4 separate regions of the Homo sapiens genome follow, and all the other regions are reported to be linked to region 1. Evidence: microRNA targets listed by miRTarBase, many of them from high-throughput screens and not tested one by one. Region 1 holds a microRNA gene; each other region holds the end of a gene's coding sequence.

Evidence for each region. The annotated mature microRNA hsa-miR-519d-3p reads CAAAGUGCCUCCCUUUAGAGUG and lies in region 1 at 1,541-1,562, shown strand. An mRNA with a match to its seed (bases 2 to 7 or 8) in the 3' UTR can be bound and repressed. Matches are read on the target gene's strand: a 7mer-m8 pairs with bases 2 to 8, a 7mer-A1 pairs with bases 2 to 7 and ends in A, and an 8mer does both.
Region 2: the mRNA of GNS is a reported target of hsa-miR-519d-3p. Seed matches in the 3' UTR shown: 7mer-m8 at 1,838-1,844.
Region 3: the mRNA of SMAD5 is a reported target of hsa-miR-519d-3p. Seed matches in the 3' UTR shown: 7mer-m8 at 1,761-1,767 and 7mer-m8 at 1,283-1,289.
Region 4: the mRNA of RPA2 is a reported target of hsa-miR-519d-3p. Seed matches in the 3' UTR shown: 7mer-m8 at 2,183-2,189.

The regions. Positions count from the first base shown.
Region 1 is chr19:53,711,860-53,715,105 of GRCh38, forward strand. MIR519D (microRNA 519d) reads left to right here and starts at 1,488; the gene lies at 1,488-1,575. It overlaps MIR517A (microRNA 517a), which reads left to right and starts at 409; the gene lies at 409-495.
Region 2 is chr12:64,713,892-64,716,891 of GRCh38, reverse strand. GNS (glucosamine (N-acetyl)-6-sulfatase) reads left to right here. Exons shown (of 14, transcript NM_002076.4): 14 at 73-3,000. The coding sequence ends at 151. Among named protein-coding and RNA genes, the nearest start is that of GNS, 44 kb to the left of the region's middle.
Region 3 is chr5:136,177,095-136,180,094 of GRCh38, reverse strand. SMAD5 (SMAD family member 5) reads right to left here. Exons shown (of 8, transcript NM_005903.7): 8 at 1-2,758. The coding sequence ends at 2,615. Among named protein-coding and RNA genes, the nearest start is that of SMIM32, 15 kb to the left of the region's middle.
Region 4 is chr1:27,889,516-27,892,515 of GRCh38, forward strand. RPA2 (replication protein A2) reads right to left here. Exons shown (of 9, transcript NM_002946.5): 9 at 2,009-2,732. The coding sequence ends at 2,648. Among named protein-coding and RNA genes, the nearest start is that of THEMIS2, 18 kb to the left of the region's middle. RefSeq lists a silencer at 1,250-1,319.

The DNA.
Region 1 (3,246 bases):
CTAAGATTACAGGCGTGAGCCACCACACATGGCCATTAACACCTTTTAGTCCATGGAAATTATTCTGGCACTGATTTATAAAGCCTCATGTGGGGTCAGGTAGAGTCAAAGGGGGACCTCAGTGTCCCTTGCAGATGGGATGTGCTCAGCAAGAGCACGGAGGTGGAGTGCATGGGGTTTGAGTTTTCACTGGGGAAATGAAACCAACATCTTGGGTGCATGACCAGGTCATATATGCAGTCATATATGCAATATGCATGGTGGTGGGTGCCTCTAATCCCAGCTACTCAGGAGGCTGACGCAGAAGAATCGCTTGAACCCAGGAGGCAGAAGTTGCCATGAGCCGAGATCCCACCACCGCATCCAGCCTGGGCGGCAGAGTGAGACTCCGTGTCAAAAAAAAGAAGATCTCAGGCAGTGACCCTCTAGATGGAAGCACTGTCTGTTGTATAAAAGAAAAGATCGTGCATCCCTTTAGAGTGTTACTGTTTGAGACAAGCAACGTTGAAGATGCTGCTGATCTTGGTAATACATTTGCAGAGCGTGCTTATCATCAGACTTGCATGATGTCGGGGTTCTGTTTGTGATTTGAAATTTTTCCAAGACAGGCTTTCTATTGCCCAGGCGTGGGTGGATAGCACCTTCCACCAAGATTTCTTGGGCTTAAGTGGTCCTCTTTTTATTTTTTGATTTTTTGAGACACACTCTTGTTTCGTTGGGAGTGCAGTAGCAGGATCTCTGCTCACCGGAAACTCCACCTCTCGGGTTCCAGTGATTCTCCCACCTCAGCCTGCCGAATTGTTGGGAATTCAGGCATCAGGCACCCACCATCGTGTCCTGCACTCTTGCTGCCCATCCTGGAGAGCACTGGCATGATCTAGGCTCACTGCAACCTCCGCCTCCTGGGTTCGAGTGATGCTTCTGCCTCAGCCTCCCAGGTAGTTGGGATTACAGGCACCTACTGCCCCACCCAGCTAATTTTTATGTTTTTAGTAGAGACGGGTTTCACCATGTTGGCCAGGCTAGTCTTGAACTCCCGCTTTCAGGTGATCCACTAGCCTGTGGTCTATCCTGGAGGATGTTTGTGTGTGTGACAATGTATATTCTTCAACATCTTAGACTCCATTTTGGATGCTCCCATCGGAACTATGTATCCCTGTGCTGGAACTCAAGTGAACACTCAGCTCAAAGTCCATTGCTGTTCTCTAGAAATCCAGCCCAGTTCTCTTGGTTAAATATAAGGTATGTGTAGTAGGCATTGCTTTTTCTCTTTAGAGGCAAAACTCAGGAGGGTTGCCCCTTGATGAACAAGGCTAACCTGCAGAGCCTTTGAAGAAAGGAACTGGAGATGGTCCTTTTAGGGGTTTATGTTCTGGATTCTAGAAAACAGGCAAACAGGGCCAATAAATGCATCTTTATTGTTGTGGCCATTTTAACCTGGTCAAGGAAGATTTCAACAAAAAACCCAGAGTGCTGGAGCAAGAAGATCCCATGCTGTGACCCTCCAAAGGGAAGCGCTTTCTGTTTGTTTTCTCTTAAACAAAGTGCCTCCCTTTAGAGTGTTACCGTTTGGGAAAAGCCACGTTGAAGATGATGCTGATCTTGGTAATACATTTGCAGACCATGCTTGTAATCAGACTTGGATGATGTTGGGAGTCTGTTTTTTTGTTTGTTTGTTTGGTTGGTTTTTTTGTTTGTTAGGTTTTTGTTTTTTGTTTTGGTGTGTGTGTTTTGTTTTGTGTTTTTTTTTTTTTCTAAGACAAGGTCTCTGTTGCCCAGGAGAGACTAGAGAAGCACTTTTTAAGATAGGCCTGTTGGGCTCAGATGGTCCTTTTATGGGATACAGTCTTGCTCTGTGACCCAGACTGGAGTGCAGTGGCGCGATCTTGGCTCAATGCAACCTCCACCTCCCGGGTTCGAGTGATTCTCCTGCCTCAGCTTCCTGGGTAGCTGGGATTACAGATGCCTGACATCACACTCGGCTAATATTTGTATTTTTCTTTTTTATTCATTCATTCATTTTTGAGATGGAGTGTTGCTGTCACCCAGCCTGGAGGGCAGTGGCATGATCCCGGCTGACTCCAACCTCTGCCTCTCAGGTTCAAGCCATTCTCCTGCCTCAGTCTCCTGAGTAGGTGGAATTACAGGCACCCACCACTACAACCAGCTACTTTTTGATTTTGATTTTTTTTTTTTTTTTTTTTTTTTAGTAAAGGTGGGGTTTCACCATGTTGGCCAGGCTAGTCTCAAACCCCTGACCTCAAGTGAGCCGCTGGCCTCGGCCTCCCAAAGTGCTGAGAATACAGGCGTGAGCCACCGGGCACAGCCATCAGCACCTTTTACTTTATGGAAATTTTTCTGGCACTGGTATAGAACCTCACGTGGGGTCAGGTGGAGTTGAGGGGACCTCAGTGTCCCTGCAGATGGGATGAGCAAGAGCACGGAGGTGGAGTGCATGGGGCTTCAGTGTTTATTGGGGAAATGAAGCTGAAATCTGGGTGCATGACCAGGAGATAAATGCATGAGACGGCGGTCTCACTATGCTGCCCTGGCTGAAGTGGGCTTAGATCCTCCTGCCTCTGCCCCTCCCCAGTCCTTGGTAGATGGGACCACATGTGAATATTAACCCCCCATGCACAGACAAGAAGAAAGTAAGGACTGTTCTTTGGTTCATACCTGACCCCAGTTAAACTTGTATTTTAGATAAACAATGTATTTGAGATGTACTTGAACAACAAACGATTTGCTGTTCAGGTGTGGGCATCTTTGTTTTGTTTTTTTTTTTCCTAATTTTAAATATGGGACTAGTGTGCATATGGTGGCTCTTGTCTGTAATTCCTGCACTTTGTGAGGCTGAGACAGGAGGATCACCTGAGATCAGTTGTTCGAGACCAGCCTGGCCAACATGAAGCCAGGAGGCTGAGCTTTCAGTGAGCTGAAATCTTCTGCTGCACTCCACCCTGGGCAACAGAGTGAGACTCAGTCTCAAGAAAGTAAAAAATAGGCCGGGCGCGGTGGCGCATGCCTGTAATCCCAGCACTTTGGGAGGCCGAGACGGGAGGATCACCTGAGGTCAGGAGTTCAAGACCAACAGGGCCAACATGGCAAAGCCTCGTCTCTACTAAAAATACAAAAATTAGCTGGGTGCAATGGTGCACATCTGTAATTCCAGCTACTCCGGAGGCTGAGGCAGGAGAATCCCTTGAACCCAGGAGGAGGAGATTTCAGTGAGCTGAAATCAAGCCA
Region 2 (3,000 bases), not on the chromosome of region 1:
CCTTTCCACTGAATAATATTCTGAGTGAGAAGCTAGTGAGAGCTAATGTTACATTTGGTTTTTCCTCCCCAGATACAGGTTTGACCCCCGTCTCATGTTCAGCAATCGCGGCAGTGTCAGGACTCGAAGATTTTCCAAACATCTTCTGTAGCGACCTCACACAGCCTCTGCAGATGGATCCCTGCACGCCTCTTTCTGATGAAGTGATTGTAGTAGGTGTCTGTAGCTAGTCTTCAAGACCACACCTGGAAGAGTTTCTGGGCTGGCTTTAAGTCCTGTTTGAAAAAGCAACCCAGTCAGCTGACTTCCTCGTGCAATGTGTTAAACTGTGAACTCTGCCCATGTGTCAGGAGTGGCTGTCTCTGGTCTCTTCCTTTAGCTGACAAGGACACTCCTGAGGTCTTTGTTCTCACTGTATTCTTTTTATCCTGGGGCCACAGTTCTTGATTATTCCTCTTGTGGTTAAAGACTGAATTTGTAAACCCATTCAGATAAATGGCAGTACTTTAGGACACACACAAACACACAGACACACCTTTTGATATGTAAGCTTGACCTAAAGTCAAAGGACCTGTGTAGCATTTCAGATTGAGCACTTCACTATCAAAAATACTAACATCACATGGCTTGAAGAGTAACCATCAGAGCTGAATCATCCAAGTAAGAACAAGTACCATTGTTGATTGATAAGTAGAGATACATTTTTTATGATGTTCATCACAGTGTGGTAAGGTTGCAAATTCAAAACATGTCACCCAAGCTCTGTTCATGTTTTTGTGAATTCTAGGCTGGTGCTGCACTGAAATAGAGCAGTAAGCTTGTGATAAAGGCCAATTCCAGGTAGCTCTTGAAGGTGATAGCCATCTACTTTCCAGTGGCTGCCAACCACAGGGAGTGCCAGTTAACACTGGAAGGATTAAGGCAAGGTCCCTTCTCTTGAGACTCCCCTCTGAGATCTGAAAAATGAAGTGGCTTAGGAACATCAGCAGTGAAGAACTGCCAAGAGTTGGTGAAGGTTGTCTCTTCCGAGGGCCTTCTGAAGACAGGGCTCTTGAACAGACAAGTGGAAGGGCTGTACCAGGGATAAAGGAAAGAAGTGCCTGTCCAGCAGGGAGCTTGAATTTAAGTTCCATGTATGAAGTCATTGGCTCTATCTGCATTTTTCTGTCATTCTCTTCATTTGTTTTAAGGTGGAAAATTTTCTTACAGTTGATGCAAAGTATCAACTACTTTACCCTACCTTCTCCCCTTTTAGATGGGTTCTTCCTGAGTTTTGGAGTCTTGTATGATTATCAGTATTCCCCTGTCAAAATCAAATCTATTCAGGTTTCTTCACTGTTGAGAACACCTAAATGTTTTTATTTTTGAGAAGTGGGGACAGAGTCTCACTATGTCACCCAGGCTGGAGTGCAATGGCATGATCTCAGCTCACTGCAACCTTCGCCTCCTGGGTTCAAGCGATTCTCCTGCCTCCGCCTCCTGAGTAGCTGGGATTATAGGCACGCACCACCACGCCCAGCTAATTTTTTGTATTTTTAGTAGAGACAGAGTTTCACCATGTTGGCCAGGCTGGTCTTGAACTCCTGACCTTGTGATCCACCCACCTCGGCCTCCCAGAGTGCTGGGATTACAGGCATGAGCCACCACGCTTGGCTAAGAACACCTAAATTTTTATGTTTCTTGGCTCAAAAACCAGTTCCATTTCTAATGTTGTCCTCACAAGAAGGCTAATTGGTGGTGAGACAGCAGGGGAGGAGGAAGAGCTGTGGTTTGTAACTTGTTCAACTCAGGCAATAAGCGATTTTAGCTTTATTTAAAGTCTTCTGTCCAGCTTTAAGCACTTTGTAAGACATGGCTGAAAGTAGCTTTTCTATCAGAATTGCAGATAGTCATGTTGGGCTAACAGTCAATTGGATATATTCCTTTACCTCACATGACCCCAGCAACTGTGGTGGTATCTAGAGGTGAAACAGGCAAGTGAAATGGACACCTCTGCTGTGAATGTTTTAGAGAAGGAAATTCAAAAAATGTTGTAACTGAAAGCACTGTTGAATATGGGTATCGGCTTTCTTTTTCACTTTGACTCTTAACATTATCAGTCAACTTCCACATTAATGAAAGTTGACCATAGTTATTTCCAAATAAAAAGAAACCAACTCTTACCAGGTCTTGGACTGTGATGTCATATTATTCAGTTTTATGCTTGTTCCTGAGCAGAACTCATAAGAGTGACATAGTCAGCTGCTGACGGCACCTCAGCCACGCCACTCTTACTCAGTTCAGTGGGTGTGCTTGCGTGGTAGGATGTGGTGCAGCCCTCTCTACGCTCTTCTATTTTTGGTATATTTCCTATCTAACCTTCAAATAGCTTCCAATTCTTTTTTTCTTGGACTGGCTTCATTCTGAATTTGTGCTAAAATAATCTTTCATAAAGAGACCTCAGTTTATAGCGTAACAGACTACACAATGCACTGATGTTTTCATAATGTTTAAGGGACCCACTGCAAGAAGCTTGCTGCCTCCTTTTAATTGTATTCATTTAGATTTTGATTTTCCATGTTAAGAAGGTGAGGTCCATGTTGGTGCCCTTCAGAGTAGAGAACCATGTAAACATTAGGAATGAACAGAGGCCTTAGGAATGAATAGAGAGTTTGCCTTATACAATTTCCTGTTACAAAGCTCTCCCTCTCATGCAAAGTAGGGAACACCTTTTGAGCATCTTTGAATTTGACAAATGGTGCTGTTGCAAACACTTTTTTTTTGAGATGAAGTCTCGCGGTTGTCACCCGGGCTGGAGTGCAGTGGCGTGATCTCGGCTCACTGCAACTTCCACCTCCTGGGTTCCAGCAGTTCTCCTGCCTCAGCCTCCCAAGTAGCTGAGATTACAGGCGCCTGCCACCCCACCTGGCTGATTTTTGTAATTTTAGTAGAGACGGGGTTTCACCATGTTGGCCAGGCTGATTAACTCCTGACCTCAGGTGATCCACCTTTCTCGGCCTC
Region 3 (3,000 bases), not on the chromosome of region 1:
CTTTTAGGAGATACAACAGGCTTATAGTTCTCTGTCAAACTCTTAGTTGTTAATAGCTTTAGTACTGTCATTCATGAGACACAACTCCTAAGAGAAAACAAAGAAAAGGCCAATCACGTAAGATCTTGTTAACTCAAGACTGTGACATAATGACCCCAAATAAAAACAATTTTTAATTAACTCACAGTAGAAAACACCAATAAAACAACTCTCTAATTTCCACTAGTTTACTGCAGCCCAATGAAGTTGATTACATACATCAGTCATTCAATTGGAGTAATTTTTTCCTACAAATTTGTTCCAGAGATCATGCCATAAGCCTGGTTAAGTAAAAGAATGATGAAAATGCCAAAGTTCTATCAAGTAAGCAAATATTCTCTTTCGTGTGGCAGACAGAACTCTGGAAGAAACAGAATGCATGTCATGTAATACTTACATTTAAGGCTCAGGTGACTGTCAGAAAGTATTTCTTTTACCCAGCAAAGAACTGTGAGCTGAAACACAAATGGCAGTTCATCTGAAAGAACTAAAACCATCCACTGGCTGCACATTGAAAAAGCAATAAATAATGACACAGAAAACAAAAGAAATTGCATAATTCTTTCCTCGAAAATGCTTTTTTTTTTCTTCACAAGAGCAGAAAGGACAAAGTGGAAAGTCAAACCAAACTAACATTTTAAACAGAAGAATGATATGACTCCATATACTTTCAAAAGGCACCAGAAAATAAAGCTTTCACTGATAGGTAAATTAGGTCATTTTTTTTTTCCAAAATAATTTCTTCATTCTCATGTCATAATTAAGTGTCCATTTGACAGCTCCTGAGAAAAAAACTGGTTCAAAGTTCTTTATCCAAAGCCAAAAACATGATTGATTAAATGGATATTTTGGAGTTCGTTCATGTCTTTTCTCTCTAAAGATTGTGTTTTGGGAGACTAGCTTCCACATAAGTACTTAAAAAATGGAAAAAGAGGATCATCGATAAATGAGAGAAGAGTCTATATTCGTTGATGGGTGAGTGTTTTGTTTTGTTTTGTTTTTTGAGGCAGAGTCTCGCTCTGTCGCCCAGGCTGGAGTGCAGTGGTGCGATCTCGGCTCACCACAACCTCCGCCTCCCAGGTTCAAGTGATTCTTCTGCCTCAGCTTCCCGAGTAGCTGGGACTTCAGGCACGCACCACCATGCCCAGCTAATTTTTGTATTTTTTGTAGAGACAGGGTTTCACCATATTGGCCAGGCTGGTCTCAAACTCCTGACATCATGATCTGCCTGCCTCAGCCTCCCAAAGTGCTGGGATTACAGGTGTGAGCCACTGTGCCCAGCCGAGTGTTTTAAAATCAGCTATCCCTACATCCACTGCTGATTCATTTAGTATCAAATCAGTAGCCTTATCCTTGGGGCCCAACTGAAGAGCCTCCTACGGCTCCAGTGCATAGGTCCTTGCGTAGGGAGGCTGATACAAGTAAGCTGACACTTGTAAGAGCAATGGGATTAACTACATGATTCTCCAGCACTGATAACACCCATAAAACTGTAGGGAATTAAAAAGGCACCTTAAGTTGGAGCTATAGAATAACAGTCTTATAACCTAGGTTGAAAGTAAAACAAAAACCAGAAAAAAGCATAACTTCCTACAAATGTAATCTATAAATTGCAGTGTTTGTTAATACAAAAAAGGTACCAAGGACGTAAGGATAAGCATCTAAGTCCAAGTCACTTGAGTGTATTTTATCAAAGGTTATGCTAAAAACTGTCACCCATAAAAGTGCAAAATAAAAGATTAATGCATGTCAAAAATAGAGTTCTTGCAACATTGTCCAAAAGCAGCAAACATAGTTGAACAAGGCTGTGCATGCACTGTCACTAGCTATAAAGTAATGCTTATGACAGATTTTGAGTAAATGACATATACTTGAGATCAGTTATTTGCAAAAATTTTTTTAAAAAAGGAAATGTCTTACAAAAGATATATAGCATGAAGTCACATTACACTGAAGAACACTTATCTGTATTAAATGTAAATTTTATGTCATCTAGAAAACTATCATTTTGCTTTTACTGAACACTACCAGTTACAGCAGTGCATAGTGTTCATTCAAATAAAACTTTATAGTTTCTTTTAAGCCCCTACCATACACTTTTGCAAAACAATGAATTGTACTTTTTTTTTTTAAGTTGGTGGGACAAAGAAACTGGTAAAAGTACAGCTTCTGGAAGATCGAGAGTAGGAGGGAAAACTTACTCTTCACTGTATATGCCCTCTTATAAGCTACTATAATTTTTCATCATGTGATGCATTTTCAAATAAATTTAATAAAAAATTGTTAGGGCAATAAAGTAAAAGCATGTTCCAGTTTAAGATCAATGCCAAATTTCTGAACTGGGGCATAATACTTACTCTGCATCTTTTACAACACTTCTAAGAGTTAATCACATGAACATGAATACAAACAAATGTAGATTCATCACAAAATACAAATGTATTGGTCACAATTATGTAGAAAAAAATAAGCTGTAATATCTGTTTTCAATGTAAGCTCACAGTATCTGTACTCAAAGTTTCTCTAAAATTAAAACAAGTCCACTAACAATATAATTGAAAAGAATACTTCTGCATTATGAAACAGAAGATATGGGGTTCAGAGGGGAGCCCATCTGAGTAAGGACTTTATCCAGCCACTGAAGAGGCCCATGAAGATGAATCTCAATCCAACATGGGGTGCTGGTTACATCCTGCCGGTGATATTCTGCTCCCCAACCCTATGAAAATGAACAGATATCATCACAAATCCCTCTTTAAACTGTCAACCACTCTAAACCAATTTTACCATAAGAAAAAGATAGCTTTTAACAGTAGAGATATGTAGAAGTTACATAAAGAGAATAACTATCACAAAACCAGTCTTAGTATTCACCATGAAATTAAAAGACAACAGCTACATTATTTAAAGATTCATGAATTCTAAAATAATATATAATTCCCTTAAAAGAAACCCTTAGAG
Region 4 (3,000 bases), not on the chromosome of region 1:
TCTCCAAGGAGCCTCATTTCCCACCTGTATATGTAGGGATTCTCCTATGAGCAGGCTGGACCCATTGCTAGGCCGTGACACTGGTGGTTTCTAAGAACCTGGGTCACACGGCTATCTCAACAATGGGCCAAGAGAACACTGTACATGTGACCTATCAGGTGGACCACAAATGCCCAAGATGCAAGTTTGTCCTGCCTGAGCAGAGCAGAAGCTCTACAAAGCCTGGAGTTTCATTCTGAGAAGTGGCCTGGCTGGCTCTCCTGCCTGTGCTCATCCCACAGGTCCCAGCAGCGGTCAGAAATCACACAACCCCCATGAGACTGTGGAAATGGCAAGATGGCAGGGAATCCAGCACCACTGAGCAACTATTCTGTGCTGCTGGGAATGCTGAACCAGCCTGTCCCGTGACGCCAATCTCTTATTGTGCTTTATATTCCTAGTACCTGACCTACGGGTTGATACAGCAGGTATCCAATAAGCACTAAATTAACAAGCAGTTGTTAATTGCTAAGTCGTCATCTGATTTTTATCAAAAGAAAAAAAAACCGGTCAGGCTCACGCCTATAATCCCAGCACCTTGGGAGGCCAAGGTGGGCGGATCATGAGGTCAGGAGATCGAGACCATCCTGGCTAACACGGTGAAACCCTGTCTCTACTAAAAATACAAAAATTAGCTGGGTATGGTGGCATGCGCCTATAGTCCCAGCTACTCGGGAGACTGAGGCAGGAGAATCACTTGAACATGGGAGGCGGAGCTTGCAGTGAGCTGAGATTGCACCACTGCACTCCAGCCTGGGCAACACAGCAAGGCTCTGTCTAAAAAAAAATAAAAATAAAAATAAAGAAAAAAGAAAACCACTTCCACCTACAAGTACTGCTACCGCTTTGCCCATTTGAGGGCACCCAGCTTCATAACTAGAAAGAGAAGTTTACCAACCATAAAAGTATCCCGTCATATATTCCAAATTCAAATACACGATTTTACTTGTTTTTAGTCATTGTTCTTTGAGAAAATAACCAAGAAGGAACACACTTGCAAATGAACATGCTGGCTGAGTTTTACACATTTGCATAGTTCCGCAGATGTTAACAACTCTGCATGTATAGAAAACAACCATACATTCATCCACTGTTAGAAACCAAGTAGGTGGAGCCTTCTCTACACAGCTGCTAGATCTCATTTAGAAACAGAGTTAAAGCAGAGAATTCTTTTTTTTGAGACAGAGTCTCGCTCTGTTGCCCAGGCTGGAATGCAGTTGTGCAATCTCGGCTCACTGCAAGCTCTGCCTCCCGGGTTCACACCATTCTCCTGCCTCAGCCTCCTGAGTAGCTGGGACTACAGGCGCCCACCACCTTGCCTGGCTAATTTTTTGTATTTTTAGCAGAGATGGAGTTTCACCGAATTAGCCAGGATGATCTCGATCTCCTGACCTTGTGATCTGCCTGCCTCGGCCTCCCAAAGAGCTGGGATTACAGGCGTGAGCCACCGCGCCCGGCCAGAGAATTCTTATTGGGATGTTACGTCTCACTAACTTTATCTCAAAATTGGTTCTTTTATTCAAGATGTAGATTACTTTCAGGAGTTGTCAAAAACATCATTGAACTAGTTTCTTTTTCTGTAAGAAACAGCCAATCAAGTTGGCCAAAAAATGACCATAGGCTTTTGGAAAGTCTCATCTTGAGGCCAAATGGGTAGCTATTTGATTCAGTTACATGATCACACACTGCCAAAGAGTCAACATTAAAGTCCATTATATAATCCCTTTAAATGGCAATACTAGATTTAGACGCTTTACAGACTATGTTTTTTTCAATCTTCACAACAAACCCAGGGGAAATAACGTTTTCTTTTTGTAAATGAGGAAATGGAGGTTCTCAGAGCTGACATAGCCTGCTCAAGATTCTAACTAAAAAGTGGGAAAGCCAGAATTCAAATCCAAGTTTCACTATGTTACACTGCCTCAGATGATAAAGTGGTCATTACACTGCTCAGAAAGAAAAACGAGAATTTTTACAAGTTACTACAATAGAACTGTTTTATTAAACATATGACTGTATTTATTTTGTACAAAATGCAGTAACACTTCTTCTTTTCCTCTGCCCCTGGAGGCACTACCGCAGAACTTCATGTTCACAGAAACACACGTCATGGCAAGTGTGTCAAAAAGTCATGACAAGCAGGAAAGTGCAATTCTGAAAGTAATGCCACACAACCAAAGTGGGAAATGAAAACAGGCAGAGGCCAGCAGGTTTCTCGGCTAGGGCTCTGCCTATAACGCCCTGGTCCTGCTCATCTTTCAGCAGTAAACATTTTAAGAAGAGAAACTCCTGAGCACTATGTAAGTACTCTCCTGGTAGCATCCTTCCAATTCCATCTATCTTGATGTTGTAACAAGCTTATTTGTAACTTCCTCAAGAAATCCCACCCTGGATTGCATCCCTGTCAATTGCCCATCTCCCTCTGAGCTTCAAACAAAACAAAATAAAACAGAAGAGCAGTAAGTTTCAAAAGGAAGTCAGAGGAGACATTTGATAGATGAAACCTACTTCCTAGAAGCCCCCTGGCCAGACATATGCAGAGCTGGAGACAACAGATTGTGAAACTAGGTCCAGCTGTAAAATATCTCAGGTACCCAGTTAGATCCAGTTATTCTGCATCTGTGGATTTAAAATGGTCATCATCCACAGTAGAATAGATGTGCCCCTCATTGCTCAGAAAATCCACAGCTTGCCTAGAAAGAAAGAAGAAAAAAAAAAGGTCATTTTCAGGCCAATTCAGAAGGAAACTGCCTTTTGGATATGGCCAAATATGCAAACTTCGCTTATCTCCCAACTTTCTACCTTAGCTAAGAATTCACAAGTATTCTGCACATAGAAAGCTCTCACAGGGAGAAATGCCAGTAAAATAGCAAAACAGAGCTTATTCATGGAGACAATGGCTATTAGGGCTGTCTTGGATCCCTCTCCCAAATTGTGCAAAGGAAAGACAACAGGGCCTCA